2 separate regions of the Homo sapiens genome follow, and region 1 is linked to region 2. The links come from fine-mapping of genetic effects on gene expression. A gene starts in region 2. The other region holds a variant in brackets. All regions are shown on one strand. Distances are from middle to middle.

Region 1 (16,732 bases), 100 kb after region 2:
AGGTTTGTGTCTAGAAGGTTGACTTTTTATTTTTTATTTTGATTTTGCATATGGATATAGTTGTTCCATCACTGTTTTCAAAAACCTATCTTTACTCTGTTGTATTGCTTTTGCTTTTTTTTTTTCCAAAGATTAGGTGACTATATTTATGTGGGTCTATTTCTGGATTCTCCATTCTGTTCAACTGATCTATTTGTCTCTCCAATACCACACTGCCTTAATACTGTTACTTTATGGTAAATTTTAAACTGTCAGTTCCTTGACTCAGTTCTTCTCCTTTAAGATTGAGTTGCCTATTCTGGGTCTTTTACCTCTCCATATAAACTTTAGAATACATTTGTCAATATCCACAAGATAACTTGCTGATATTGAGATTGCATTGAATCTACAGATAAGCTGGGGAAAAAACTGGTATCTTGACAATATTGAATCTTTGTATCACAAACATGGAACGTCTCTACATTTATTAAAGTTTTTATTTATTTCATCAGTGTTTCATAGTTTTTCTCATACATCTTGTACACATTTTGTTCATTTTATACCTAAGTATTTCATTTTTAAGGGTGCTAATGTAAATAGTAATTAGTTTTTAATTTTAAATCCCACTTGTTCATTGCTGGTACATAGGAAAGCACTTGACTTTTATACATAACCTTTTATCCTGAAACCTTGCTATAAATGTCTATTTGTTCCAGGAGCGTTTTTTTTTTTGTGATTTTTTCAGATTTTCTACAAATGATTGTGTTATCTGTGAACAAAGTGTTTCTTCCCTTCCAATCTGTATACTTTTTATTTCATTTGTATACCATTTATTTAATTTTATCGCATTAGTTAGGCCTTCCAGTACAATGCTGAAAAGAACTGGTGACAGGGGCATCCTTGCCTTGTTCCTGATCTTATCAGGAAGCTTCAAGTTTTCTCACCATTGAATATGATGTTAACTGTAGGGCTTTTATATTTTTTCAATCGAGTTGACGAAGTTCCTCTGTATTGCTAGTTTGCTAAGTTTCTCTTAAATCATAAATAGGTGTTATGTGTTATTTGGTTGTAGTGTGTGTGTGTGTGTGTGTGTGTGTGTGTGTGTGTGTGTAGATAGATATATAGATAGATAGATATAGAGATACAGATAGATATAAGTATATAGATAGATATAGATATAGATAGATATAGATATACCTATATCTAGATATATAGATACACAAACACACACACACACACTACAGCCAAATAGGGGTTTTCCCAAGAATGCAATTCTGGTTCAACATTAAAAAATTAATGTATCTGTCACATCAACAGGCTAAAGAAGAAAAATTACATGGTATCATAATCTGCAGCTCAGTCTTTATCAATAGATGAAGAAAAAACGTTTGAGAAAATCTAACACCTATTTATGACACCTATTTAAGACATCTAACACCTATATATAGATATATAATATACATATATATAATGTGTATATATGTACACATTATGTATATATATACACATTATGTATATACACATATATATTATACACTGTTGGATTTAAATTGCTAATATTTTGCTAAAGATTTTCACATCAATATTCATGAGAACTATTGGTCTGTAGTTCTCTTTTCTCATAATGCCTTTGTCAAGTTTTGGTATTAGGGCAACACTTGTCTCATAGAGTGAATTAACAGGTATTCCCTCTGCTTCTATCTTCTAAAAGAGATTTTGGAGAATTGTTAGAATTTCTTCCTTAAATGTTTAGTAAAATTCACCTGCGAACCCTCTGGGTCTGGTGCTCTCTGTTTTGGAAGATTATTATTGATTCAGTTTATTTAATAAATTTAAGCCTATCCAGATTATCTATTTCTCCTGTGAGTTTTGGCAGACTGTGTCTTTCAAGGGACTTAGGAAATCATTGCAAAGGCTGTTCCATTGGAGAACAGCTTCCCCTGCCTTGGGCCTCTTCTTGAGTTCACCACTACTAGAAAATGACAAGGTCATCCTGTTGATTGCCTTCATCTGTGTTCAGAGCTCTCTGTAGACTGACTACAGCACTTACAGCTACTTTGAAGTGGTCACCATTTTCAACTTGATAATGATCCTCACCATTTTTTCTGATCCACCTCTTCTGCCTGCTCACCTGTATCTGTTGGCCCTTGTCAGAACTTCTGCACTATTTAATCAGTACCATTTTTTCTGATCCACCTGTTCTGCATGCTCACCTATATCTGCTGGCCCCTATCAGAACTTTGCACTATTTAATCACTACCCTGCTCCTCCTAATCACCTCCATCATGGTGGCCTCCAAGCTTTATAACTAGAACTGGACTGATAGCAGGAGTGGATAATCAAAGTCCAGCCAACTCAGTTGTAAATATAAACCCACACGTGGGCATTGAAGCTGCCTTGAGTGAGAAGGGCCGAGGGTGGTGACCCAGAGGCTTGGTGGCCTGGCCTGCCCTGGACCCAACCTAGGGAACCCGAGGCTGGCGGCTGGGCCTCTCTGGGCTTCACCTCTGTACCTGAGTGAGGATGAGGTGATTGGGTCAGATGACTACCCAAGCTCCTTGCTGGCCACAGACATACAGGGAATGAGCACAGAGTTGAGAAACAGAAAGAATTGCCCAAGTGATAGGCCTTTGGCCTGTAACTTTCTCTCCTCTCTCTCCCCTGTATATCTTTGATTTTGTTGCCACCTTTCCTGCATGACAAGCATATGGCTGTCCTACAAGATCTCACGTGTAACCCAAGCCACAGATGTAGCTATCTGATGAGGCAACAGTCTCTGGACCTTATGGAGCTCTATAGAAAGGAGGACCAGTGACCCTAGGCAAGGCTCTGGACCTGTGTTCCTGTGCCAAAGTCCTGCCAGGCTGGCAGGCACCAACACGGGCCTGCACTTTGGTCCTGCTTTCCCAAGAAGCTGGTTCCCTGAGCTCCTGGGAGGAGCCTCTTTCTCCAGTCTTCCTTGGAGAACATTCCTCCTCTTCTGGGAAAGGAAAGCAGTCTCAAGGAAAATCTGTTCTCTCCTTTCTTGCTTCCAGAACCATGTCAGGTACTCATGAGCCCTCTTAGCACAACTGGAGGGGTTTGTGAATACTCCTGCATAAATCTCTTCTACTTCCTATTCCTCAGAGTAGTGAAGCTGCCTTAAGTGCTCTTACAGGCTGGGCATGGTGGCTCAGCCTGCAATCCCAGCACTTGGGAGGCCAAGGCAGGTGGATCACCTGAGGTCAGGAGTTCAAGACCAGCCTGGCCAACGTGGTGAAATCCCATTTCTACTAAAAATAAAAAAATGAGCCGAGTTTGGTGGCACTTGCCTGTAGTCCCATTACTTGGGAGGATGAGGCAGGAGAATTGCTTGAGCCCAGGAGGCGAAGGTTGCAATGAGCCAAGATCATGCCACTGCACTCCAGCCTGGGCGACAGAGCAAGACTCTGACAAAAAAAAAAAATATATATATATATATAGTTCTCTCACAAAAACAAAGATTTATCCATTTATCTAGCTTGTCAATCTGGTCTTGAAGATACCTTCTTTCTTAAAGTGAGGCGTGCCCTGTAGAAATGCTATGTGGTCAGCCTGTCCCCAGATAGGAGATGTAGAGTCTCCTTTCCCTGTCTCTATTTTGTTACCACTGTGCATGTGTTTGTGTGTTTTTTAATACATATTGACTTGGCCAGTTGAAAAATAAATAAATAAATAAGAACAAAAATAGCAATTTTCATGCTTTTGCACTGTCCCCTTCTTTGTTTGTATTTGCTTGGATTTCTGACTTTCTTCTAGTGCTCTCCTCAGGTGCCTGGTGACACTTGGTGTAGCTTATGTCAAAGATGGGACCATTGAAAAACTTACTGGAAGCTTTAAGTGTAGTTGTAGTGTCCCGTTTAAGTACTTCTGTTCTAAGTTGAGCTGCAGATTATGATACCAACCACAACCATATTTATTTTCTATAATATACATATAATTAATTTCTGTTCTATCCAAACTCCTGACCAAGGCTTATATAGCCCAATATAATCAGGCACTTTCCTATCTCCCTGACCTCATTTATTCCTCCCCCCTGTTTACTGTGCTTAGTCATTTTGCCTTCTTGTTCTTCAACCTGCTAGGCTGGTTCTTGCCTCATGGACTTATACCTGTTGTTATCTTTACCTGGAATTTTCTCTCCGCAGATACTGCATGGCTGCTTTATCTCATCATTCAGTTCTCTGACCACTTCTCAGTAGGAAGGCTTTACCCGACCTCCCTACTTCGATATTCAGTAGCCTCTTACTTTACTTTCTTCATTGTACAAATAGTAAGGTCATGTCACTGATTTTTTTTACTTATTTATTGTTTATCTCTGCTATGAGAATTTAAGCTCCATGAGAGCAAGGAGCTTGTTCAAATACTCTTTCCTTAGGACCTAGAGCAATGCCTACCACCCGGTAGCACTTAGTGAACATTTTGAGAGATGACAGTGTGCTGGCAGCCCTCGCAGCCCTCGCTTGCTCTGGGCACCTCCTCTGCCTGGGCTCCCACTTTCGCAGAACTTGAGGAGCCCTTCAGCCCACCACTGCACTGTGGGAACCTGTTTCTGGGCTGGCCAGGGCCAGAGCTGGCTCACTCAGCTTGCAGGGAGGTGTGGAGGAAGATACGCAAGCGGGAACCAGAGAGGCGCAAGCAAGAACTAGGGCTGCACACCCTGCTTGTGGGCCAGCTGGAGTTCCGGGTGGGCGTGGGCTTGGCGGGCACCACACTTGGAACGGCCCACTGGCCCTGCTGGCCAGGGCAATGAGGAGCTTAGCACCCAGGCCAGCAGCTGTGGAGGGTGTACTGGGTCCCCCAGCAGTGCCAGCCCACCGGCGCTGCGCTCAATTTCTTGCCGGCCCTTAGCTGCCTCCCCATGGGGCAGGGCTTGGGAACTGCAGCCAGCCATGCCTGAGCCTCCCCGCTTCCGTGGGCTCCGGTGTGGCCTGAGCCTCCCGGACAAGCACCGCCCCCTGCTCCACGGTGCCCAGTCCCATCGACCACCCAAGGGCTGAGGAGTGTGGGTGCATGGCGCGGGACTGGCAGGCAGCTCCACCTGTGGCCCCAGTGCGGGATCCACTGGGTGAAGCCAGCTGGGCTCCTGACTCTGGTGAGGACTTGGAGAACCTTTATGTCTAGCTAAGGGATTGTAAGTACACCAATCGGCACTCTGTATCTAGCTCAAGGTTTGTAAACACAGCAATCAGCACCCTGTGTCTAGCTCAGGGTTTGTGAATGCACCAATGGACACTCTGTATCCAGCTACTCTGGTGGGGACTTGGAGAACCTTTATGTCTAGCTAAGGGATTGTAAATACACCAATGGGCACTCTGTACCTAGCTCAAGGTTTGTAAACACACCAGTCAGCACCCTGTGTCTAGCTCAGGGTTTGTGAATGCACCAATCGACACACTGTATCTACCTACTCTGGTGGGGACTTGGAGAACTTCTGTGTCTACACTCTGTATCTAGCTAATCTAGTGGGGAGGTGGAGAACCTTTGTGTCTAGCTCAGGGATTGTAAATGCACCAATCAGACCACTCGGCTCTCTGTAAAATGGACCAATCAGCAGGATGTGGGTGGGGCCAGATAAGAGAATAAAAGCAGGCTGCCCGAGCCAGCAGTGGCAACCTGCTCCGGTCCCCTTCCACACTGTGGAAGCTTTGTTCTTTCGCTCTTTGCAATAAATCTTGCTGCTGCTAACTCTTTGGGTCCACGCTGCCTTTATGAGCTGTAACACTCACCATGAAGGTCTGCAGCTTCACTCCTGAAGCCAGCGAGACCACAAACCCACCGGGAGGAAAGAACAACTCCAGATGCGAGGCCTTAAGAGCTGTAACACTCACCGCTGAGGTCCACAGCTTCACTCCTGAGCCCGCGAGACTACGAACCCCACCAGAAGGAAGAAACTCCAAACACATCCGAGCATCAGAAGGAATGAACTCCGGACATGCCACCTTTAAGAACTGTAACACTCACCGCGAGGGTCCTCGACTTCCTTCTTGAAGTCAGTGAGACCAAGAACCCACCAATTCCGGACACAATTTGTTCAAAAAATGAATCAAGGGAGCACTACCATGATTAGTATAACCTCTTCCCTGGAGCATAAGTATTTCAACAAAGAAAGTACAATTGTAGGTGAGGGCACAGTCACTTCTTGAAGGCTTTATTCTAAATTATTAAATTATTTAAATACTCTATAAAGGCCTGTTATCTCATGAGAGGCCATCTTCATCACCATGTATGCCATACATATGTAGGAAATTTTGCAATAGAAATATTGTGCAGTTTCTAATTCAGTTCAGCGAAAAATATATGAGCCCTTTCTATGTCACATTTTATTTGCAAGCAAGTTTACTAAGATTATAAAATATTATCATATGAAACAACTAAGCTAATACTACTATAAGTCATGCTTAGGTTCCCATGATGACAGAAAGTTTGTTGCTAAGAATGTCAGTAAGGGCAGGGCGCGGTGGCTCACGCCTGTAATCCCAGCACTTTGGGAGGCCGAGGCGGGCGGATCACGAGGTCAGGAGCTCAAGATCATCCTGAAACCCCGGTGAAACCCCGTCTCTACTAAAAATACAAAAAATTAGCCGGGCGTGGCGGCGGGCACCTGTAGTCCCAGCTACTGGGGAGGCTGAGGCAGGAGAATGGCGTGAACCCCGGGAAGCAGAGCTTGCAGTGAGCAGAGATCGCGCCACTGCACTCCAGCCTGGGCGACAGAGCCAGACTCCAGACTCCGTCTCAGAAAAAAAAAAGAAAAAAAAAAAAAGTCAGTAACAATGATAGTAAATGGAAAAGAATGATGTCCTAAGTAATTTCATCCTGATTATCACTGCTAGTTGCATTATTGATACAGAGTAAAAATGCTTTGTGAAAACTTTTTCATATAGGTTTAGACTTTTGCAAATGCATCTTCTGTGAGCAAGTATATCTTGTTTTCTGTTCTGTCTCTTTATAATCTTTGTAATCTCTGTTTTCTCTTTAAAATTATTTTATCACACTCTAGGGTTTAGGTTATAGCTTAAGGGGTCATCCTTGCTTCCATTCTCTTCCCATGCTGATCTGGTTTTCTTACCATTGTATCATTTTATTGATTAAGAACCTA[A/C]ATTTCTGCATAAGCTGCCCTAACATACTCACTCTTTTCTCACATGGTGAAACATACATGCCAATCATCCAATTTCATCTTATTTTCTTCATGTAATATACTATTTCTGCCCCAATACATTTACTTCTGTAAATTTGAAAGGACTTCTTCTTGTTCTTGTCTTTTGAAAATGTTTTTACCCATATTTCAAGATGTTTCTTCAATCACCATAAACTTCTTTAACTAATCCAATTATTTCGCTATAAGTATTAATGTTCTGTACTAATTAGGTGAAGTATTTCATTGTCCAAATTTTCTCTCCTGTATTAGTTTTTTACATTGAATTAGAAACTCAATAAGAGAAGAAAAAAATACCACATATTCCTGTGTTTCTTCCACAAAATCAAGACATGTAACATTAAATAGAGTGCATTTGTTCTATAGTGTCTATATTACATAGGGTGAAATGGTATAATGACTTATTTTTCTCTCATGCAACAGATTAAAGGAAGGTGGTAGTTTAGACAGGTGGGCAGTTGTGGTCCATAAGATCTGTCATTCAGGGTCTTGGGCTCCTTCTAGCCAGCTGCTCTGCTCTAGGCTTTCTCTCATCTGCATGGTCCAGATTACAGGTTAGGGGAACATGAGAAGTGGAGGGGAAATCCTTCTCTTTAAGCAAGTGGAATACATTATGTCACTTGGACATATCCAGCAGCAGGGGAGTCTGATCATCTCTAGCAGGATGGGGCTGTGACAGACATAACTCTACTGTTATGAAATAAGGAGAATAGATGTTGGTAGACAATTAGCCATCAACTCCAATATTTTAAAATCAACAAGTACTATACAAACAAACTTAGCATAAGTGTGGTTTGATATTTCAGAAAAGATCTGGATGCTTTTTCTCAGGTTGATTTCATTGGGTAAACAATTATTTTAAAAGGAGAAAAATAAAATGATTTATCAACCTTAATGTATAAATATGTCAAAATCACTAGTATTTATGTATTCAAATTATAACATAAACAATTCTAAAATTGGAGAACTTAAATATTTATTGTCCCTTACTAATTTTTTACGATGTCAAAAATGTGGAACACTGAATAGTTTAATAAAATAAGCTTAATAAAATAAAAGAGAGATTGTCTCTATTAATTAAACCAAATAACTTGAAATTAAAACTCAGTATACATTTTAAGGGTCTTGACTACTTCTCCAGTTTTTACAAAATTTAAATCAACAACTAAAAGGGTATGCCATTAGAATGTGAAACAAGAAACTCCTAATAGAAGAGGGTTCTTTTGCTAGGCAAATTTTTTAATCTATTAAATCTAATTAATTCTGAGCTGGTTATTATCACCACTTGGGAAGAAGCAGCAGTCAAAATTCTTGCCAAACTGTGGGTAGATCTATATTTTTCCCAACCTACACTCTTTTTATTTTTGTCCCATAGGAGCTGTTAACAATCACTCTGAATTTATAAAACTACAGAATTGTATCCCTCTCATATTTTACCACCTTCTGTTGAAGTGATAGGTAATGTTATAGACTGAATGTTTTTGTTCCACCAAAATTTGTGTAGTGAAGACTTCGCCATCAATGTGATATCTGGAAGTGGGGCCTTGAGGAGGTGATTAGGTATAGATGAGGTTGTCAGCATGGACCTCCGTGATAGGATTATTGATATTAAAGTAAATTTAAATGGAAACCAGGCCTGAAGATTCTCTGAGCAGACTTAACCAGTGAGGCCTCATGAGTGACTTCAACCTTGCTTGATTTTCAAACATAAGCAAAACTTAGCTTGAGCTATTTCTTGTAAATGCCTCTATTAAAGAAAAACAGAATTTAAGCACTAACCATTCAGAAACGGAAAACAAACCTATAATTATGTAACTAGGAACAAGATAGACCTAATAAGGCAACTGAATAACTGTAACCAATTAAATATTTTATTTTTTTTACCTCCGTATTTTTTTCTGTAAAAGCCTCTCTCTTGCATTCCCTTGGTGGAGCTCCCAGTCCACTTCTGATTTGGAGCTTCCCAATTCATGAATTGTTTGCTCAAATAAACTCTTTAAAATGTGACTATTACTCAACTTACCATTTAAACAATGTTTTTATAAGAGGAGGAAGAAAGACTAGAACTCTCTTTTTTGTCACGTGAGGACAGAGCAAGTAGGTCGCTGTCTGCAGGACAGGAATAGAGCCCTTTCTAGGGAGCCAAATTGTCTGGCACATTGATCTTGGATTACACAGTCTCCAGAACTGTGAAAAATAAATTCCTGTTGTTTAAGCCAGTCTATGGTATTTTATTATGGTTGCCCAAGCTAAGATAGGTTAAAAAACACAACCGGTACAGAAAAGAACTGCACAAAGCAGAGATGAATTACACATTACCAGCCCACACTGCAGTGGATGGATATAAAGGGGTTAAATGATAATCTGACTTGAAGAGGGGACTCTATTTAAAAACAGAGCATCATAGTTGTGCATTCCATTTTCAGCCCAGAACCCGATTAGGGAGTGAATTTCGAAATGTACTACAAGTCTGTAATAATCAAAACAGTGTGGTGCTGGGTTGTGGATGGACACATAAATTAAGGGAATCAAACTGAGTCCAGGGGTACATTCATTTACCTATGGTCAAGAGATTTTTGACAAATATACCAAGACCATTCAATGGAGAAAGAATAGTCTTTTTAACAAATGATGCTGGACAGATTGATAACCACATGTGAAATAATGAATTTGGATTCCTATTGATACCATATACACAAATTAATTCCAGCACTTTGGGAGGCCGAGGCAGGCGGATGACTTGAGGTGAGGAGTTCGAGACAAGCCTGGCCAACATGGTGAAACCCATCTCTACTAAAAATACAAAAATTAGCTAGGCATGGTGGTAAGCGCCTGTAATCCCAGCTACTCGGGAGACTGAGGCAGGAGATGGCTTGAACCTGGGAGGCAGAGGTTGCAGTGAGCCAAGTTCGCACCACTACTGCACTCCAGCCTGGGTGACAGAGTGAGACTCTGTCTCAAAAAAAAAAAAAAAAAAGCCCCAAATGGATCAAATACTTACATGTAAGAGCTAAGTAAAAACCTCTTAGAAGGAAACAGAGGGACAAAACTTTGTAACCTTGGGTTAGGCAATATTTTATTAAATATAACACCAAATGCACAAATATCAAAAGAGAAAATTTTGATTTCATCAAAATTAAATAATTTTGTGTGTCAAGGGACACTGCCAAGAAAATGGAAAAAAAAAAAAAAAAACGACCCAGAGAATGTAAGAGCATATTTGCAAACTATACATTTTATTAGAGTCTAATATGCAAAAGATATACTAAAAAAACTTTCATAACTCAACAACATAAAGGCAAACAATTGAAGCTGACATGGGCAAAAGTTTGAATAGCTATTTCTAGAAAGAAGATGTAGAAATGGCCAATAAGCACATGGGAAGATTTTTAAACATTTTTTTTTCTTTTTGTTGTAGAGACAGGATCTTGTCATGTTGCCCAGGCTTGTCTCAAACTCCAGGGCTCAAGCAATCCTCCCGCTTTAGCCTCCCAAAGTGCTGGGATTATAAATGTGAGCCACCACACTGGGCCAAAGATGCTTAACATTATTAACAATTAGGAAAATGCAAAGCCAAACTGCAATGAGATACCTCTTCACACTTACTAAATGGCTATAATTTTTTTTTTAAGTGGAGAAATTGGAACTTTATACATTGCTGGTGGAAATGTAATAGTACAGCAGCTGTGGAAAAGAGTTTTGTGGTTCCCCAAACAAATAAGAGAATGAAGACATATATTCACACAAAAACTTAGACACAAAGGTTCACTGTAGCACTATTCATAATAGACAAAAAGTGTAAACAACCCAAATTTCTGTCAATTGCTGAATGGATAAACAAAATGTGATATATCCATAAAATGGAATGAATGAACCTCTAAAACATTATGCAAAGTAAAAGCAGTGAGACACAAAAGGCCACATATTGTTCAATTTCATTAATATTAAATATCTGGAATAGGCAAACCCACAGAACAGAAAATAGATCAGTGGTTGCCAGAAGCTGAAGGAAGGAAGAGGGGAAGTGACTGCTTAATGGGTACAGCTTATCATTTTGGGGTAATGAAAATGTTCTGAAATTAGACAGCAGAGATGCTTGCCTAACATAGTGAATATGCTAAAGACCACTGAATAAGACACTTTAAAATAATCAAGATGGATAATTTTATGTTATGTAAATTTTATCTCATAAAGCCTTCCAAAAATATTTAGCACTTTGTCGGTCACGTATAACATAAAGCGCAACATGTATTTACTCCTTTCCAGGCAAGGATGAAGTGGTAGATGAAACTTGAGAGAACCATTATTTATTTGATTTTGTTCTTTCTCCTATTAGGAACTGCTTGTAGAGTAGAATATCAAGATCTTACTACCCCCAAACATATTTTCTATGGACACCCAAAACCCAACAAGTAAACAGTTATTTGTTTAGATTTTACTTTTTCTGTTACTGTAAATCTCTCCAGGTGATGAAAACATGTAAACTTCTTAATCAAAGATTAATTTAATAGTATGTGTTAGGATGGGCTAGATCTTTTTAGAGAGGCAAGCAACCCCAAAATTTTAGCTGCTTAAAAAGGCAAAAATTGGCTGAACACAGTGCCTGTGATCCCAGCACTTTGGAACACTGAGGAGGAAGGATCGCTTGAGTCCAGGAGTTTAAGACCAGCCCGGGCAACATAGGAAGACCTCTGCCTCTACAAAAAAATTTAAAAATTAGCTGCCATAGTGGTGTGTGTCTGTAGTCATAGCTACTCTGGAAGCTGAGGTAGGAGGATAGCTTGTGATCAGGAATGCAATGCTTCAGTGAGCCATGATTGCACCACTGCATTCCAGTCTGCGTGACAGAGCAAGACCCTGTCGCTAAAAGACAATAAATAAGTGAAATATAATGAATTTTAAAATGTGCAAGTTTATTTTTCATTCATACTATATCTCCACTAAAAGTCAGATGGATGGCTTTGTTTATCATAATTACTCAGGAATCCAGGCTACTGAAGGCCATCAGTATGGCAAGAAAACAGGGAAATCATGCATTACTCTGCAAAATTATCAAATGGAAGTGACACAGGTCACTTCTACTCACATTTCATTGGCCATAACAAGTAGCATGGGCATGTCTAACTTTAAAAAGAGGTGGGGAATGCAGTTGTTGCATATAGCTACAAACCAGAGAATTGGAAATATGTGAGTAACACTAATAACTGTTTCATAGGAATAAAAATCTCCAAACTGGGGTCCTAAATTGTGTTGAGGTAATTATGACAATGGCTTTATTTTGTATTAATTTTAAACTGACATCTGTACCATCTTATTCCCTGCTGTTTCTCTACTAGACTTTTTTTTCAGATGGCATACATTCCTTCAAATAATACTTTCAACCTTCTTAGATATGCCTTGTGAAAGGCTTATTCCTATTTGCCTAGATTTCTTTTTTTTTTTTACCCATCATTTTCCTTAAATCACTTGTCCAAACTTACACCTATAAGGGTGAGAAAAAGGGAAACAAAAAATTACCTATTCTTAAACAGTGATGAGAAGTTAGGTATGTAGGATAAGCACCCATTTAAAGAGCAAAATTACCATTCTTTAATCAAGTATCAGTTAAGAGGAAAAATAACACCCCTCCCCCCCCCACACACACAAACACAATATGAATGAAGGGAGAAATTACTGGAGGGTAAGAAATGTCAGTAGTAAGTGATGTTGTAATCAATTATTTACACATTGCCAAATCCAATGGCCAGTTCTCATTCCTCATCTTTCTTGAGCTCTCAGCAGCACCTGATGCCATAGATCATTTATCCTTCTTGAGACACCCTCTTCACTTGGCTTCTGGGACACACCATTATTGTATTTCTTCTTTCTTCTTTGTTCTTTCTTCTTTCTTCTTTCTTCTTCCTCTTCCTCTTCTTCTTCTCTTTTCAAGATTGGGCCTTGGTCTGTCGCCCAGACTAGAGTGGAGTGCAACCATCACAGCTCACTGCAGCCTCTACCTCTCAGGCTCAGGAAATCTTCCCACCTCAGCCTCCTCCATGCCCAGATAATTTTAATTTAATTTGATTTATTTATTTTTGTACAGACAAGATCTCACTACGTTGCCTAGGCTAGTCTCGAACTCCTGGGCCCAAGCAATTCTCCTGCCTGAGCCTCCCAAACTGTTGGGATTACAGGCGTGAGCCACCATGTCTGGCCTCCACTAGATATTTCTGATTAAATGTCTAGTCTCTATTTCAAGCTAATATAACCAAAACATAACTATTGATTCCTCTAGTTATGTTCCAAACATTCCCCTCCTCTGGTTCTTCCTCTCACTAAATGGCAGCTCCATTGATTGTTCAGGCCACAAATCTCTTAGTCATCCTTTACTTTTCTCTTTATCTTACAGCTCAGATTCGGGCCATCATAAAACATGGGAACATTATTTTCAAAACATAATCAGAATCTGACCACTTCTTACAACCTTCCCCACCACTCACTTGGTCCAAGCTACCTTTATCTCTTGCTCAGATGTTGCAATGTCATCAGTATATTTTTTGTGTGGCACTCAGAGTAATCCTTTTAAAAATCAGTCAGATGGTGCCACTTCCTTTAGTAGCTTCAAATCTTACCCAGAAATACAATTCAAAATTCTCATCCTTGCACAAGATAGCCATTTGGAATGCCAGAAATGCCCCATATTTTGACCTAGGTTATGTTTACATGGGTATATGTAATATATCTGGGTGTGTAAATATATGTATAAAATATATAAATGTGTGTGTATATGTAGATATATATGGAGAGATAAGTATTTATTAAGCTGTATAATTAATATGTGGGCACTTCACTATAAGTAAAACTCTCTCTCTTTATATATATATATATTTTAATTTAAGACTCTGAAAATCTGCTCTACACCATCTTGTCTCTCACCACTCACCTTCTAAAACTGTGTTCCAGTTACACTGAGTTCCTGAATATTTCTGGAACTAATGGGAAGCATGTTCCCACCTAAGGGATTTGCACTTATTGTATGCTCTATATAGAATCCTTGGAAACTAGCCTCACTTCTTATAGGTCTGCTAGAATTGTCTGAGAGGCCTTCCCTGAACTCCTACACAATGATATTTACACTATTACACTTTACCTATCTATTTATCTTGAATTTTGCAGGACAAAATCACACCAAGAAGCTGGTTTCATCATAAGAACATAACCACACACCTCACATGGATTCTCAGTGCCATCCTACAGTCTTACTTTTCTGTCTTCTTTCCCATACTCTGATTTCTTTTTCTTCAAATCTCCCCAACCCTCCTCAACTTCTCTTCACTTTGGATAATGACATCACTGTTTTACTCAAGAGAAATGGAAACTAGCAGAAAATTTTATTAGTTTCTCCACCACAAAATCTATAATTCTATTAGTAATTGAACGTGTCTTCACTATATCTTTCCTGTTACAATGAGAACTGTATTCAACTTGCTTTCAAGGGCCTATGTCAACCGAGCTGTGGGTTCATTCTTTTTCCTTCTCAAGAACTTTGATCCTTCAGTTATCTCTTACCTTGTTGCAATACCAGTGTCTCTCTCTCTCTCTGTTTCTCTGGGTATTCCAACCAGCATGCACACATTCTCTAGTATCTGCCATATACTAAATACACAAAAAAACTACCTTCATCCCCAAATCTCTCACCCAGTCTGATTTACCTGCAAAACTTCTCTAAAGAGTTTGCCTCTCTTGCTCTCTCCCTTTCCTTGCCACCCACAAATTCTTCCACTCACTCAAGTCTGGCTTCTCTCCTGCCCACCACTACTGTGGAAACCTCGGTGTTTACAACTCCAGTGGCCCCCTCTCTATCCCAGTGTATTGACTTTTTCTTGCATTGAACAGGTCTGCTTTCTCCCTCATTTGTGCTTCTCTTGGCTTCTGGGACACTTCCTTTTTCTCAGCTTTTGTCTTGCCTCATGGTTGGTTCCTTCGTCTCCTTTGATGGCTCCTTCATATCTACTCAATCTTTACTTGTTTAAGTGCTTCAGCATTTGATTCTGGACAGTTTTCTTTTCTCATCCTGTATTTGAGTAATCTTATCAAAGTCCTTGGCTTTTGAATAATCAAAACATAGCTATTCTTAAGCATTTAAAATATAATCTAGATTACAGGCACGATTTACATACCAGAGATGTTGGATTGAGAGTTATCCAAATAGATTTGCTATCTGAGACTGAGATTGGGAGAACTTGCAGAAGTGTTGAAGATACAAAAAAAAAAAAAAAAAGAAAAGAAAAGAAAAAAAAAGAAAAAAGAAAAAAAAAAGTTCTGGGCGTGGTGGCACATGCCTGTAATCCCAGCACTTTGGGAGGCCGTTTCAGGTGGATCATTTGAGGCCAGGAGTTCAAGACAAGCCTGGCCAACATGGTAAAACCCCGTCTCTACTAAAAATACAAAAATTAGTCAGGCATGGCGGCCAGTCCTTGTCAAAACAAAACAAAAACAAAAACAAGTATTTTGATAGGACTTTCTGTTTGGAGGTTAGATGTAGGAAGAGATGAAGTAGAAAGGCAGTGATCAGAGAAGGAAGAACAGAACAAACATGAAACTCCAGAGGAGAGAGACATGCAAGGAAAAGAGTCTTCTACACAATAAAATTCTGCAGAATTTTTGGATCAGAAGATAATAGAAAAATTTTTTTAGGATTTGAAAAGAAGAAAAGGAGATCATAATATCTGCAAGGGCAGTTTTGGTAGGTTATAAAACTGGTACATTTTGGAGTAAGGAGTAGAAGGAGAGAATTACCAGGCATACATCACTCATTTCATGAGTTTAACAGTGGGAGAAATGGTTTGATAAATAAAATAAATAGTGGGATCAACCTTGTTTTTATTTTATTTTATTTTTTGGTTTTGTTTTTGTCTTTTTTTTTTTAATGCGTTTATTGGGGCAGAGAGATGAGAGCCTGTTTTTAAAAAGGTATCTACAGAGAAGAAGGAATTGAAACTGTAAGAGAAAAAAGAAGCAATCAAAAATCAGGGAAAATAGAAGGATTGGACTTTGCAATATAGGAGAAAGAGTGGAGGGATTCTTGTTTAGAAATAAAGAGGTTTATCTCTTCCTTTGGAACTTATGGAAGAGACTAAAAGGCCTATCAAAACAATAATGCTGGCCGGGCGCCGTGGCTCACGCTTGTAATCCCAACACTTTCGGAGGCCGAGGCAGGGGGATCACCTGAGGTCAGGAGTTTGAGACCAGTCTGGCCAACTTGGTGAAACCCCATCTCTACTAAATATGCAAAACCTTAGCCAGACATGGTGGTGCATGCCTGTAATCCCAGCTACTTGGGAGGCTGAGGCACAAGAATTGCTTGAACCTGGGAGGCAAAGATTACAGTGAGCTAAGGTTGCACTACTGCAACTCTGTTGTCTGGGCAACAGAGCAAGACTCTGTCTCAAAAGGAAAGGAAGGAAGGAAGGAAGGAAGAGAGACAGAGAGAAAGAAAGAAAGAAAACGATAATGCTTCTGTAGGCCAGAGGTGATTAAAAAAATATATATATATAATGCTGGGGTATACTGAAGATGATGGCCCAGATCTTTCATGTG
Region 2 (15,691 bases):
GGCAGGGGCAAGTACCCCTCAACCCCTTCTCCTTCACCCTTAGCAGCAAGTCCCGCTTTTCTAGGGGACAAGAACCCCCAAACCCCTTCCCTCCGTGTCTCTACGCTCTCTTTTCTCTGGGTTTGCTTCCTTCAGTATGGGCAACCTTCCACCCTCCATTCCTCCTTCTTCTCCCTTAGCCTGTGTGCTCAAGAACTTAAAACCTCTTCAGCTTACACCTGACCTAAAACCTAAATGCCTTATTTTCTTCTGCAATGCCGCTTGACCCCAATACAAACTCGACAGTAGTTCCAAATAGCTGGAAAACGGCACTTTCAATTTTTCCATCCTACAAGATCTAAATAATTCTTGTCATAAAATGGGCAAATGGTCTGAGGTGCCTGACGTCCAGGCATTCTTTTACACATCAGTCCCTTCCTAGTCTCTGTGCCCAGTGCAACTCGTCCCAAATCTTCCTTCTTTCCCTCCCGCCTGTCCCCTCAGTCCCAACCCCAAGCATCGCTGAGTCTTTCTAATCTTCCTTTTCTACAGACCCATCTGACCTCTCCCCTCCTCTCCAGCCCAAGCTAGGTCCCAATTCTTCCTCAGCCTCCGCTCCTCCACCCTGTAATCTTTTGATCGCTTCCCCTCCTCACACCTGGTCTGGCTTACAGTTTCGTTCTGTGACTAGCCCTAGTCCACCTTCCCAGCAATTTATTCTTAAAAAGGTGGCTGGAGCCAAAGGTATAGTCAACATTAATGCTCCTTTTTCTTTATCCCAAATGAGATAGTGTTTAGGCTGTTTTTCATCAAATATAAAAACCCAGCCCAGTTCATTGCTCGTTTGGCAGCAACCCTGAGACTCTTTACAGCCCTAGACCCTAAAAGGTCAAAAGGCCGTCTTATTCTCAAAATACATTTTATTACCCAATCTGCTCCCGACATTAAATAAAACTCCAAAAATTAAATTCCGGCCCTCAAACCCCACAACAGGATTTAATTAACCTCGCCTTCAAGGTGTACAATAATAGAAAAAAGTTGCAATTCCTTGCCTCCACTGTGAGACAAACCCCAGCCACATCTCCAGCACACAAGAACTTCCAAACGCCTGAACCGCAGCAGCCAGGCGTTCCTCCAGAACCTCCTCCCCCAGGAGCTTGCTACAAGTGCCAGAAATCTATCTGACCACCAGGCCAAGGAATGCCTGCAGCCCAGGATTCCTCCTAAGCCGTGTCCCATCTTTGCGGGACCCCACTGGAAATCGGACTGTTCAACTCACCTGGCAGACACTCCCAGAGCCCCTGGAACTCTGGCCCAAGGCTTTCTGACCGACTCCTTCTCGGCTTAGTGGCTGAAGACTGATGCTGCCCGATTGCCTCGGAAGCCCCGTAGACCATCACGGACACCGAGCTTTGGGTAACTCTCACAGTGGAAGGTAAGTCCGTCCCCTTCTTAATCAATACGGAGGCTACCCACTCCACATTACCTTCTTTTCAAGGGCCTGTTTCCCTTGCCTCCATAACTGTTGTGGGTATTGATGGCCAGGCTTCTAAACCTCTTAAAACTCCCCAACTCTGGTGCCAACTTAGACAGTACTCTTTTAAGCACTCCTTTTTAGTTATCCCCACCTGCCCAGTTCCCTTATTAGGCTGAGACACTTTAACTAAATTATCTGCTTCCCTGACTATTCCTGGACTACAGCTATATCTCATTGCCGCCCTTCTTTCCAATCCAAAGCCTCCTTTGCGTCCTCCTCTTGTATCCCCCCACCTTAACCCACAAGTATAAGATACCTCTACTCCCTCCTTGGCGACCGATCATGTACCCCTTACCATCTCATTAAAACCTAATCACCCTTACCCCACTCAACGCCAATATCCCATCCCGCAGCACGCTTTAAAAAGATTAAAGCCTGCTACAGCATGGCCTTTTAAAGCCTATAAACTCTCCTTACAATTCCCCCATTTTACCTGTCCTAAAACCAGACAAGCCTTACAAGTTAGTTCAGGATCTGTGCCTTATCAACCAAATTGTTTTGCCTAGCCACTCCATGGTGCCAAACCTATATACTCTCCTATCCTCAATACCTGCCTCTACAACCCATTATTCTGTTCTAGATCTCAAACATGCTTTCTTTACTATTCCTTTGCACCCTTAATCCCAGCCTCTCTTCGCTTTCACTTGGACTGACCCTGACACCCATCAAGCTCAGCAAATTACCTAGGCTGTACTGCCACAAAGCTTCACAGACAGCCCCCATTACTTCAATCAAGCCCAAATTTCTTCCTCATCTGTTACCTATCTCGACATAATTCTCATAAAAACACATGTGCTCTCCCTGCCAATTGGGTCCGACTGATCTCTCAAACTCAAGCACCTTCTACAAAACAACAACTCCTTTCCTTCCTAGGCATGGTTAGCATGGTCAGAATTCTTACACAAGAGCCAGGACCACACCCTGTAGCCTTTCTGTCCAAACAACTTGACCTTACTGTTTTAGCCTAGCCCTCATGTCTGCATGCAGTGGCTGCCACTGCTTTAATACTTTTAGAGGCCCTCAAAATCACAAACTATGCTCAACTCACTCTCTACAGTTCTCATAACTTCCAAAATCTATTTTCTTCCTCATACCTGACGCATATGCTTTCTGCTTCCCGGCTCCTTCAGGTATACTCACTCTTTGTTGAGTCTCCCACAATTACCGTTGTTCCTGGCCCAGACTTCAATCCGGCCTCTCACATTATTCCTGATACCACACCTGACCCCCATTACTGTATCTCTCTGATCCACCTGACATTCACCCCATTTCCCCAAATTTCCTTCTTTCCTGTTCCTCACCCTGATCACGCTTGATTTATTGATGGCGGTTCCACCAGGCCTAATCACCACACACCAGCAAAGGCAGGTTATGCTATAGTACAAGCCACTAACTCGCCTCTTAGAACCTCTCATTTCCTTTCCATTGTGGAAATCTATCCTCAAGGAAATAACTTCTCAGTGTTCCATCTGCTATTCTACTACTCCTCAGGGATTATTCAGGCCCCCCTCCCTTCCCTACACATCAAGCTCGAGGATTTGCCCCGCCCAGGACTGGCAAATTAGCTTTACTCAACATGCCCTGAGTCAGATAACTAAAATACCTCTTAGTCTAGGTAGACACTTTCACTGGATAGGTAGAGGCCTTTCCTATAGGGTCTGAGAAGGCCACCGCAGTCATTTCTTCCCTTCTGTCAGACATAATTCCTCAGTTTAGCCTTCCCACCTCAATACAGTCTGATAACAGGTGAGCCTTTATTAGTAAAATCAGCCAAGCAGTTTTTCAGGCTCTTAGTATTCAGTGAAACCTTTATATCCCTTATGGTCCTCCGTCTTCAAGAAAAGTAGAATGGACTAAAGGTCTTTTAAAAACACACCTCACCAAGCTCAGCCACCAACTTAAAAAGGACTGGACAATACTTTTACCACTTTCCCTTCTCAGAATTCAGGCCTGTCTTTGGAATGCTACAGGGTACAGCCCATTTAAGCTCCTGTATAGACGCTCCTTTTTATTAGGCCCCAGTCTCATTCCAGACACCAGACCAACTTAGACTGTGCCCAAAAAAACTTGTCATCCCTACTATCTTCAGTCTAGTCATACTCCTATTCACCGTTCTCAACTACTCATACATGCCCTGCTCTTGTTTACACTGCCGGTTTACACTGTTTTTCCAAGCCATCACAGCTGATATCTCCTGGCGCTATCCCCAAACTGCCACTCTTAACTCTTGAAGTAAATAAATAATCTTTGCTGGCAGGACTATGCTGAATCTCCTTAGGCACTCTCTAATCAGATATCCTGAGTCGTCCCAATTCTTAGACCTTTTATACCTGTTTTTCTCCTTCTGTTATTCCATTTAGTTTCTCAATTCATCCAAAACCGTATCCAGGCCATCACCAATCATTCTATATGATAAATGTTTCTTCTAACAATCCCACAATATCACCCCTTGCCACAAGACCTCCCTTCAGCTTAATCTCTCCCACTCTAGGTTCCCATGCCGCCCCTAATCCTGCTTGAAGCAGCCCTTGGAAATATCACCCATTCTCTCTCCATACCACCCCCCAAAAATTTTCGCCGCCCCAACACTTCAACACTATTTTGTTTTACTTGTCTTATTAATATAAGAAGGCAGGAATGTCAGGCCTCTGAGCCCAGGCCAGGCCATCGCATCCCCTGTGACTTGCATGTATACATCCAGATGGCCTAAAGTAACTGAAGATCCACAAAGAAGTAAAAACAGCCTTAACTGATGACATTCCACCATTGTGATTTGTTCCTGCCCCACCCTAACTGATCAATGTACTTTGTAATCTCCCCCACCCTTAAGAAGGTTCTTTGTAATTCTCCCCACCCTTGAGAATGTACTTTGTGAGATCCACCCCTGCCCACCAGAGAACAACCGCCTTTGACTGTAATTTTCCATTACCTTCCCAAATCCTATAAAAGGGCCCCATCCCTATCTCCCTTCCTGACTCTCTTTTTGGACTCAGCCCGCCTGCACCCAGGTGAAATAAACAGCCATATTGCTCACACAAAGCCTGTTTGGTGGTCTCTTCACACGGACGCGCATGAAAGATACCATCTCACACCAGTTAGAATAGAGATCATTAAAGAGTCAGGAAACAACAGATGCTGGAGAGGATGTGGAGAAATAGGAATGCTTTTACAGTGTTGGTGGGAATGTAAATTAGTTCAACCATTGCGGAAGACAGTGTGGCAATTCCTTCAAGGATCTAGAACCAGAAATACCATTTGACCCAGCAATCCCATTACTGGGTATATACCTAAAGGATTATAAATCATTCTACTGTTAAGACACATGCATGCACACGTATGTTTTTTGCTGCACTGTTCACAATAGCAAAGACTTGGAACCAACCCAAATGCCCATCAATGATAGACTGGATAAAGAAAATGTGGCACATATACACTATGAAGTACTATGCAGCCATAAGAAAAGGATGAGTTCATGTCCTTTGCAGGGACATGGATGAAGCTGGAAACCATCATTCTCAGCAAACTAACACAAGAACAGAAAATCAAACACTGCATGTTCTCATTCATAAGTGGGAATTGAACAATGAGACACATGGACACAGGGAGGGGAACATCATACACCAGGGGGTATGTCATGGGGGTTTGGGGGTTAGGGGAGGGATAGCATTAGGAGAAATACCCAATGTAGATGATGGGTTGATGGGTGCAGCAAACTACCCTGGCACGTGTATACCTATGTAACAAACCTGCCCATTCTGCACACGTATCCCAGAACTTAAAGTATAATTTTAAAAAAGATGTTTTATAATCTAATTGGTGACTGACAACTAAGGTACGTTAGACCATTAGCAAAAGTAAATTAAGTGATAAGTATTATGGTAGGGACCTCAGGTAATATAGGAATTGGGCAGAGAGAGACGTTAACATGGTTAACTCCAAAAGTGGTATGACCTAGAAAATGGGTAGATAGGTTTGAGTAAGTGGAAGGAGAGAAAAGAAATTTCTAGGCATAGACGCAGTGTTTCTCAAGAAACTGAAAGACAAATATGCAGGTCCTGCTTATGGAAAAGGGAAGACAGAAGGTGTCTTGCTTAGGAAGAATGAGTACAAGGATATAGAGTGAATTTAATCAGAAATGACAGTTATGGACAAATCCTGAATAAAGGATTTTAGAAGTCAAACCAAAGGGTTTAAAACTGATATAGGAGTAAATAAATTATTAAAGATTTTAGGGAGGAAAGTGAAAATATTAAGGTCAAGTTTAAATGTGAACAATGAGATATAAGTAAACACCAAATGGCATTTGTTGCTTGGCCAGACTTAAAAGCCTCCATTTCAACTTGCTCCCACTAATAATGAGGACAGTAACCAAAGGTTAGACATTCGAAAAATGACCTTGGATACAAAAGCAGTGTCAGCAATTGTTTACTTTTGACAGGCATTTGTTGACTGAAAGACATTTATGACATGACGTTAACTATAATTATGCAGACCAACGGATAGAATAGGATAGATGCAGTCAATTTTAAATGGCTTTTCTCTTGAAGTTGTTTGTTTTTGAGATTGGGTCTCACTCTATCACCCAGGCTGGAATGCAATGGTGCTAACATGACTCTCTGCTGCCTCAACATCCAGGGCTCAGGCAATCTTCCTGCCTCATCCTTCTAAGTAGCTGAGACCAGAGGTGCACACCAACACACCCAGCTAATTTTTAAATTATTTGTTGAGATGGGGTCTCCCTATGTTGCACAGGCTGGTCTCAAACTCCTGGGCTCAAGTGATCCTCCTGCCTCAGCCTCCCAAAGTAAGGGATTACAGGTGTGAGCCACCACGCCTGGCCCCCTTGAAGTTTTAATTATTCTATCTTAGGAAAATCCCTCAAGAAGGGCAAATTTGTTTTTTCCATTATAGGCAGCCTAGTGATTACTCCATAAATATTACTTTAAACAATGTAAATGCCAGATTCTTAATTTTCCTGACAACATTAAAACATTAAAATCATTCATTAATGAAGTTGCTTTATTTGGAAAAAATTACTGGGAAAAAGTATTTAAAGAATCAAAACTATCAATATATTCCAGTTTTGTGCATTTTATTTACTTTTACCCTCTGAATGAAGTGACCACTCTTATTTGTCAAGGAATGTTTTTACTTTTATTCCCTTATTCCAAAAAAATTGCATAATTCCTACAAAATACCACTTAAAAAAATCTTGAGGTACCCTGTTTTTTATTTTAAGTTTTTTAAGGATTGCTGGGGAAATGCTGGTAAGAGATAAGTCACTTTCTACTGACACTTTACAAGCCTTCTTCAACCTTAATTGCTAGGATGAGTAAACAAAAAACTTTTAACTTCTGTGGTTGTGGAAATTTAAAAAGCAAAGCATCATCCCTTTCCAACTCCTGCTCTTTCTCCTGGGACTATCGCTGGTGTCTCCTCTGTTCCTCCAAGTCTGTCATTCCTGCGGGTTTTTCTGGCCACTAAAGGACAGCAGGCTATCCAGAATGCCATTCTCCACCCCCTCCTAAGAGCCAGTGGTCACAAGCCTGTGCTCTGTTCCACACTTGTAGCATCCAGGTGGAATTTAAAATAGAATGGATGGGGACCCAGTTATGTAAAAAGTCACCTCTGGTCTTCTGTTCTATCATGGGAGTTAAGACCAGCTGGGGTGCTTCTGGTATCAGTTTCCAGCACATAAGTCTCTGTGATCTGCAGCAGAAATTCTTACAACAGGGCCCTTAGAAGTCTCGTCCTCTGATGGGCTGCCAGAGGCAGAGTCCAAGGCATATCTCTGCAGGCAGACTTTTTTTGCTGAGTTTCCCAGGGACTGAGAGAAAACTATCAGAAGGAAGAGGCTCCCCTGTATTCTACAACTAGAAATCTACAACTGTCTTGGGCGGAAGATGGGATTTATTGCTGTCTAGCTACTTATCTGGTTCAGTTGGCTCAGCGGATTGGAGATGATAACAGTCACAGATTCAGCATCTTGAGAGAGCTCTTTTGAGTGAAATGAGTATGCTTGAAATCTGGCTCTCCCCTCCCTAATTCCTTTTCCCAGAATACAGCTCAGAGCACCTTACCTCCAGCTAGGAAAAAGAGTTTAAGTGTATGCCCTCTATGTGGACTCCAGAGACTACAGGTGCTTGAGTAACCAATGCAAACTTGCAGTCATATGGTGATTTTCTTAACATCACTAGTCAAAATCTAGGCAGCTGGGCTCAGATCATGAAATGACATAATATTAGCTCTCATTTATGTGTTTATTAAATGATTAATGATATGATCTTTACAACATTTTATGCATATGGACACTAGAAGCTTAAAAAGTTTATACAGTACAGTAAACTTTAGGTCTCACATTCTACTGGTCAGTGAATATTTTGTCGTCTCTTCAATCAAAATATAATAAATAGGAAATTAAGCTCCTGCTTGCTGAGAAAGAAATCAATAATTTAAAATGTGCAGTTGTATACATGTTTGGAATTGATCTTTTACTTCATTCATCAAGTCTAAATAGCATAATCCCCTCCGATGAGAGTAGAGTTGAATGCTTTATATTAATAGACATAAATTCGATTATGAAAGAGCTCCTCAACTTCATATGTCAGGATAAAATATCTGTAACTTCTTATATTCTCCAAATAAAATTTCATGTGATCTGACAAGATTATATTTTAAAATTCAACCATTTTAAATGACTTCTGCAATTAAAATAGATTCATTTTCCTTGAAATCCAGAAGCAAAAGTGAAGCTGGAGATATTAAGACAAGATGGGCGCCAAAAAACCCTGGCTTATGCCACCTTGGGGACTGAACCATCTTTCAGGTAGACAAGTTCCTGTCAATGGCTAAGGTTTCCTCCTCCTGCAGTCCCCCAGCAAATGCAGTTTCCCCCTCCCCACCATGTGCGCGCGCGCACACACACACACACACACACACACACACACACACACACACACACGTACCACTCTCCTCCCTCCAGCCCTATGGTAGCTCCAGTAAGAGATTCAGATCTGAAAAAGAAATTTTGATAATTTTGCAAATGAAAAAACTGAGACTCAAAGTTGAAATGAGTAGTCCACGATCATCACCTGCTGACAGGAGCCCCGGTTACCCAACCCAACCCAGTGCTCTTTCCACTGCCCCTCTCAGCCTGCAAAAACCACAGAGGGCAAAGCCAGAAAGATGGAAAGGCACCCATGCAGCTCACCACTTGCCTCAGGGAGACCCTCTTCACAGGGGCTTCTCAAAAGACCTCCCTATGGTGGGTTTTGTTTATTTTTGGAGAACAAAACAACTTTTTCAATGTTTCAATGGAGAGATCTGTGAATTGTGACGTAAGGAACCATAGACACCAGTAAAAAATTTTGACCCAAAGACACGGTAATCTGAGTTTTAAGATTTGGGGATTTGATCAGGGAAAAAAAATTTTACATATATATATATATAACACCTAACATATCTCTCTCTATACACACACACTATATATATGTTTTGAATTAGGCATGCAGAAGTATGTTGTAGTGAAAAAAACAGGGTCTTGGCCAGGTGCCATGGATCATGCCTATAATCCCAGCAGTTTGGGAGGCTGAGGCAGGAGGATTGTTTGAGCCAGGAATTTGAGACCAGTCTGGGCAACATAGTGAGACCCCTGTCTCTACACAAAATAAAAAATACAGCTGAATATAACGGTGCACACTTGTAGTCCCAGCTACTCAGGAGGCTGAGGGTGAGGATCGCTTGTGCCTGGGAGTTGAGGCTGCAGTGAGTCATGATAGAGCCACTACACTCCAACCTGGGCAATAGAATGATACCTCATCTCAAAAAAAAAAAAAAAAAAAAAAAAAAAGGAGGGGCCTCTAAAGGTTGATTGTTTTTGAGTAACCTCGAGCAAGTTTCTTAATCTCCCCAAATTAATTTCCTCATCTGTAAAGTGAGTATCAATTTTGTATAGAGAAAGATGGAGAATGAGACAGAGACAGAGAGACAAATAAAGACAGTAAGAGGGATTTGGGAGTGTATGGCAGCTCTCAGAACATGAAAGTTCACAATGCCTGGAACAAAATTATCATTCAAATATCTGTTCACTGAATGAAAAATCTGCTTCCTCAGCTGGGTCAGCTCCTAGAAATATGTCTCCTTTGTTTTGGAGATATGGACAGAATGACCCCTAAGGCTCTAGCCCATACAAAAGAGATGCAAGACCACTCACGCCCTAAAATTGTGTCTTGTGTTTGAAAATGTTTGACACAGTGGTCTCTGACTCTCAGGACAGAATACCCTCTGAGTGCACCCCAAAGGCTTTATCTGGATGCGTAGATGGTGCTAGATTCCCAGAATAATAATGAAGGTAACATTCAAGTGTCTCCTCCCCACTCTGATCCCCAAGACTGAAATAAGTAATCTTCCTTTGTGTGTTCACAGCACACTCTACTTTGTACATTTATTGCACGTATTATAGCTGCATGCTCCCTTGTCTGTCTTGCCAAGTAGACTGTGAATTCCATGATCATTTGAGTAAGTGCTATCCCCACTTTCTAACCCATAACAGAGACTCAATATATGTTTTTGATTTTTTAAAAAATCAAACACCTCTTTAAAACATCTACCACCGTTGGCCCTAAAATCAGCCTAAGGTATGGATATTGTCCAGCACCCCCAACCCGGAGATTGCCTCCCCACTTCCAATTCCCCTTGAAATGAAGTAAAAACTGTAGTTCCAGCATTTAGGCCTCTTACATATCCACTCAGGATGTTCCTCATTGTTAATTCACTCAATAAATTTTGTTCAAAAACAGGATCTTATGTACTAGGCCCAATGGCAGGGGTACAGCAATGAATCCGCCATTGTCCCTCTTGGAGAAGCTCACAGAATAAAGTGAGCTTGGATGAAGGCTCTGACTTTCAGAGAGGCCACTAGCCGTTAGCCAAAATATTTCTGGATCAGTATCTACATCCTATCATCAACTTGACTCCTCGACTCTTTAAAATGTGGCTTTAGAACCTGGTACATAGTGTACACTCAATAAACATTTGTTGGATAAGGGAGTGAATGGGATAGGATGAAAATTTCAGTGAGCTTTTATTGCTCACTGATTGATATAGGAGATAAGCAGCTAATGCTATCTAATCCTTTTTTTTTTTTTTTTTTTGAGTCGGAGTCTCACTGTGTGCCATAGGCTGGAGTGCAGTGGCGCTATCTCAACTCACTGCAACCTCCACCTCCTAGGTTCAAGCAATTCTCCTGTCTTAGCCTCCCGAGTAGCTGGGATTACAGGCATGCACCACCACACCCAAATAATTTTGTATTTTTAGCAGGGACAGGGTTTCACCATGTTGGCCATGCTGGTCTTGAACTCCTGACCTCTGGTGATCCGCCCATCTTGGCCTCCAAAAGTGCTGGGATTACAGGTGTGAGCCACTGCACCTGGCCCCAAATCCTTTATTTAAGTAATTTTGGCTTTGGGTACCCACTGAGCTGATACGTCCACCATGGGAATGTATTAACACTTCAAAAGATCTCTAAGGACAGATAATGCTTCTTAGAAACATTTCTTGTGTCTAATTAGGTGAGGCAGGCTTTCCCAATACCACAGCTAAACACGTTGCACTTGCCTTCAGATAACTCTCGGAGACCTTCCATCCTACAAAACACTGATTAACTAACCTTCCAAATCTGCCAGTAACTGGAACACTTCCTGCTTCTGAACTATCTTCGGCTCCAGGGAGTACCCTGCTAGATTCTTTAATCTCTCTTACTGATCATCTAAACGTATTTTCTTTTACACTTGTGTATGGTTTATTTGTACAGTTGTGGGAAGAGAGCTTGTCTTTATAAATTCCCACAGGACTAGGCACACAGCAGGTATTTAATAAGTACGTTTTTAAAAATGTGTCTTCCATGTGTAGCCCTGTCCTGCAGGGACGCATCGGGTAGGTGGCAAAGGGGTGCCCAATCCTAGCGAACTTTCAACTGAGGTTGGGGGAGAAGGGCAGGGACCCTCCCACCATGAGAATCGTAAGGTAGGACTGGAGAAAAAGATCAGAGCACATCTCTCATGTACTCTAGAACTCTCCAGAAACCTCTCACTTTCTTTGTCCCCATCTTCTGCAGGGGACTTACAGCGTTCTCAGGGACTGCAGGAAATAAGACAAATAGGGAAAAGGAAATCACAGAGCACGATTGAAATATGGCAGATGAGATGCTAGACTGGAATCTTCTCTTTCGCTCAAAATAAATGCATACATAAATGACAGTGATTGTAAGCCTGACAGCACTTCACCCACTCTCTAAAGTCTCCTGACAGTGGGACCTCAAGCAGGGGACTGGAAGGTTAATTTGTTCGGTACCAACTCTGACTCAAAAAGATTATTCTCCTGTGAGGTGAAGGAGAAGAAAAAAAGGTCAGTGACATTTTCCAGCCACTACACCCAGAGGGTAACCCAGATGTTGGTGGGATGGGTGGGACTCATCAAACCCACGCTTTCCCCCAAGGTTGCTAAGACAGAGCGTCCTGTTAGTCTTCGGGTTGAATCAACCCCACAACGACCCGTTCTAAGGAGACTGTGACAGCAGGAAAGGTCATGACACACCCAGGTCTGGACACGCTGTCCCTGAGGCCAGTGCCCGGAGCGCCCCCCGCGGAGCCGCTCTCCACCAATAAGAGCCTGAGGTCCCGAGATGATGAGATGCGGGGCCGCTGCTCAGCCAATCAGGCTCCAGGCGCGGCCAGGGGGAGGAGATGGGAGGAGAGGCCGGGGGCGATGGAGACGCGGATACATCAACAGAAGTTTCTCACCTAGGAATGCGAGGGGCGCTCCCGCATCTCCTGCACATCTCCACCCCTGCGCAGGAGGAGATCCCCAGGCTGCTCTCTCCATCTCTCCTACAGCTCCCTGCAAACGAGGGGGAAGCTGCTGAGAGTCCCTATCACTGCTGGCCTTTTAATGTTGTATGCAAGGAGGAAGAGGGCGAGGGATAACTTGGTGCTGGACAACTGACCTGCGGCCCGAAGGGCCTCTGGGGAGGGGGTGCAAAAGAGGAGCGGCTGGGCTGGGGGACTCCATGCGGGGGCGATGGACAGGGCGGCGCTCCTGGGACTGGCCCGCTTGTGCGCGCTGTGGGCAGCCCTGCTCGTGCTGTTCCCCTACGGAGCCCAAGGAAACTGGATGTGAGTATGGAGGTGGCAGGGAAGCATCGGGTAGGTGGCAAAAGGGGTGCCCAATCCTAGGGAACTTTCAACTGAGGCTGGGGGAGAAGGGCGGGGACCCTTAGACGAGTGACCTAATTTTTCGGAAAACATCTGGAATTGGGGAGCGGCTTAACGCTACGGGCGGCCGTGTCTTACAGGTGGTTGGGCATTGCCTCCTTCGGGGTTCCAGAGAAGCTGGGCTGCGCCAATTTGCCGCTGAACAGCCGCCAGAAGGAGCTGTGCAAGAGGAAACCGTACCTGCTGCCGAGCATCCGAGAGGGCGCCCGGCTGGGCATTCAGGAGTGCGGGAGCCAGTTCAGACACGAGAGATGGAACTGCATGATCACCGCCGCCGCCACTACCGCCCCGATGGGCGCCAGCCCCCTCTTTGGCTACGAGCTGAGCAGCGGTGAGTCCTGGGTCCTTAGGGGTTGGTGGGGGACGGAAGGCGACAACTCCTCCACCGGTTCCTGCAAATAAAGTAAATAGTGCTACGTGGTCCTGTAGCTCTCTAAGTTCCAGAAGAAGCCCTTTAGTGCACGGGGATTGAGAGCTACAAAGGCCAGACCTGGGGAGCAGGTGCGAGCCTGGAGGGAGGTGACTCCCCAGTTCCAGAGCGGAGCTCTAGGGGCTGGAGCTCTTCCTCTTTCCTGCGGTGCCCCGCCAGAGTTGGAAAAAAAACTCTAATTCTCCTACCCCGCCGACCCCCTCGGACCCCGTAGCGCCCCCCTACGTGGGTGACCAGCTGGAGAAACATGATGTCGGCAGCGGGGAATGCGGCTGCCGCATCTGCTTTGATTTAACCAACTCCGCTGCGCACCAAACCCCGGACAAGTGGCTAATTGCAGCGAAGCCCCACCTTTATTGGCTCCTAGGAGCACCGAGTTGACAGAATAATGGTGACTTTTAAAGCGACTGTCCGCGACCACCCAACGTGCGGCTAACCTGAGCAGGACCACTTGTGCGCTTCTCGTTTCTTTGGCTTTTCTATCTTTCCCTCCTCGGCGCACTCCCGCGGCGCGGGAAGCTGCAGGAAAACAAAGTTCCACTTCCACGTGCGTAGTGACTTGGTAAGGATAAAGGTACAGGGAGCCAGGATTGTTCCTGGAATATCAACAGATCCAAAGAATGTTAGGACTGGGGCGCTGAAGGATGCGCTGTCGTTTTTCATGTTCATTTCCGTTCCCCCTCCGCCTTTGACCCTTGTCCACGCAGTCCCTGCGCGCACCCCCGCCGAGCCGCGCACCTCCCCCGCGGCGTTCTGGCCGGCACGCCCTTCCGAAGGAGCCCTGGTCCCCGTAGAGAGAAAAAAAAAAAAAAAAAAAAAAGAGACAGAAAGAAAAAAAATAGATGTGTTTTTCACAGTTGCTGAAATGCATCAGCTGTTGAAAAGGTTTATTGGACAGCGGGCATGAAACTGTTTCTACTCCAAACTAAACATCTGGAAAGAAAAAAAAAAAGTCGCCTGCTGATTCCCTTCTAGTCCATGTTATTAATGTTTTAATGGACTTTAATTTTCAAAGATTTTAGCTCAAACTCTACTGCAGGTGTGCTAAATGCATAATTTTCAATATTCAATATTTTTAATAGAATTATGTTTTTGCTAGTGACATTTTAATTATCTTACCTTTCATTGCCTTTAAGACTGTAAGAGGAGTAGCTAATACTATATAAAATGTTTAACTGTTTCATGTTAATGTGAGACTAATCTTTAATGTGAAAATATACGGTACCGTTTACTAATTGCTTTGGTCTTTCCTTAATTTTAATTTTCATTCTGACACGTATTATTTATGCAAACAAAAATCACACCAAAATGTTCAGCTTGTGTTCTGTGAGAGCACATTTTAAATTTCAAAAGAAAAGCAATCTAGTGTTCTTTGGGTGTTGTATTACCGTTTACAGTATCTATGCAAAGAATTTTTAATTCAGCATGTATTACTGAGCTATGACTGTCAACTGTGCACTGAACTGGGTGCAAACATACATTTCAAATTTAAAAAATAAAGAGATGATTTTAAGGTAAAGGGACAATGTATGACCATACAGTATATGACAATCTCTTCAAGTGGAATACTGAAAATTAATGTTGCTTTTTAAGAGACTAGAACAAGAGCAAATCTTCCTTTCTAAATATGTACTCGTTAACGCATCCATTGTAAGCAACTGAAAAATTACTTGTCCAGTAAGATCATGAGTAGGAGGCTTTCTTCTGAACATAAACAGAAGTTGCCTGGTTCTCTAATTTAGCAATTTATATTTTTTCTAGGCACCAAAGAGACAGCATTTATTTATGCTGTGATGGCTGCAGGCCTGGTGCATTCTGTGACCAGGTCATGCAGTGCAGGCAACATGACAGAGTGTTCCTGTGACACCACCTTGCAGAACGGCGGCTCAGCAAGTGAAGGCTGGCACTGGGGGGGCTGCTCCGATGATGTCCAGTATGGCATGTGGTTCAGCAGAAAGTTCCTAGATTTCCCCATCGGAAACACCACGGGCAAAGAAAACAAAGTACTATTAGCAATGAACCTACATAACAATGAAGCTGGAAGGCAGGTATGTATTAGAAAATGGAATAATCAAAACCCAGTGCTGTTAGGTAAATAACTAGGATTACACATCTGCATGAAACTGTCCAAATGACTTAAAAACCAAACACTGGCAGCCCTCAAGTGGGATCCTGAAAATTAATATTGTTTTTAAAAGACTACAGCAATAGAAAATTATCCTTTCTAAATATGTATGCGTTAAAGCATCCATGGTAAGCAATTGAAAAATTCCTTCTCTGGTAAGAGGATGAATAGGAGGCTTTGATTAGAATAAATATACGTGTGTGTGTGTGTGTATACACATTTGCACATATATTACAAATGTGTATTATACAAATATGTATATACCCTTTCATGAATATATACTAACCACAATTTTGGTTCTCTAACTGATATGAGTTAAACCGTGTTATAGCATGTGTTTGTGGTTGTAT

Alleles and levels. Positions count from the first base shown, and alleles are read on the strand shown. Sizes are in standard deviations (SD) of each study's normalised expression.
For the expression in prefrontal cortex of the gene that starts at base 12,300 in region 2, allele C in region 1 goes with a higher level than allele A (moderate effect, 0.58 SD a copy in GTEx).

The links. PIP is the estimated chance that this variant, and not a neighbour inherited with it, causes the effect. A credible set is the group of variants that fine-mapping cannot tell apart.
Region 1: its variant is the best candidate, but not a certain one, in a credible set for the expression of WNT16 in prefrontal cortex (GTEx, PIP 0.73).

What each region holds. Positions count from the first base shown.
Region 1 is chr7:121,417,108-121,433,839 of GRCh38, forward strand. No RefSeq gene overlaps it. Among named protein-coding and RNA genes, the nearest start is that of FAM3C, 29 kb to the left of the region's middle. The variant A/C (reference allele first, on the strand shown) is at 7,097.
Region 2 is chr7:121,316,701-121,332,391 of GRCh38, forward strand. It overlaps WNT16 (Wnt family member 16), which reads left to right and starts at 12,300. Exons shown (of 4, transcript NM_057168.2): 1 at 12,300-12,687; 2 at 12,867-13,117; 3 at 14,978-15,264. The coding sequence starts at 12,593.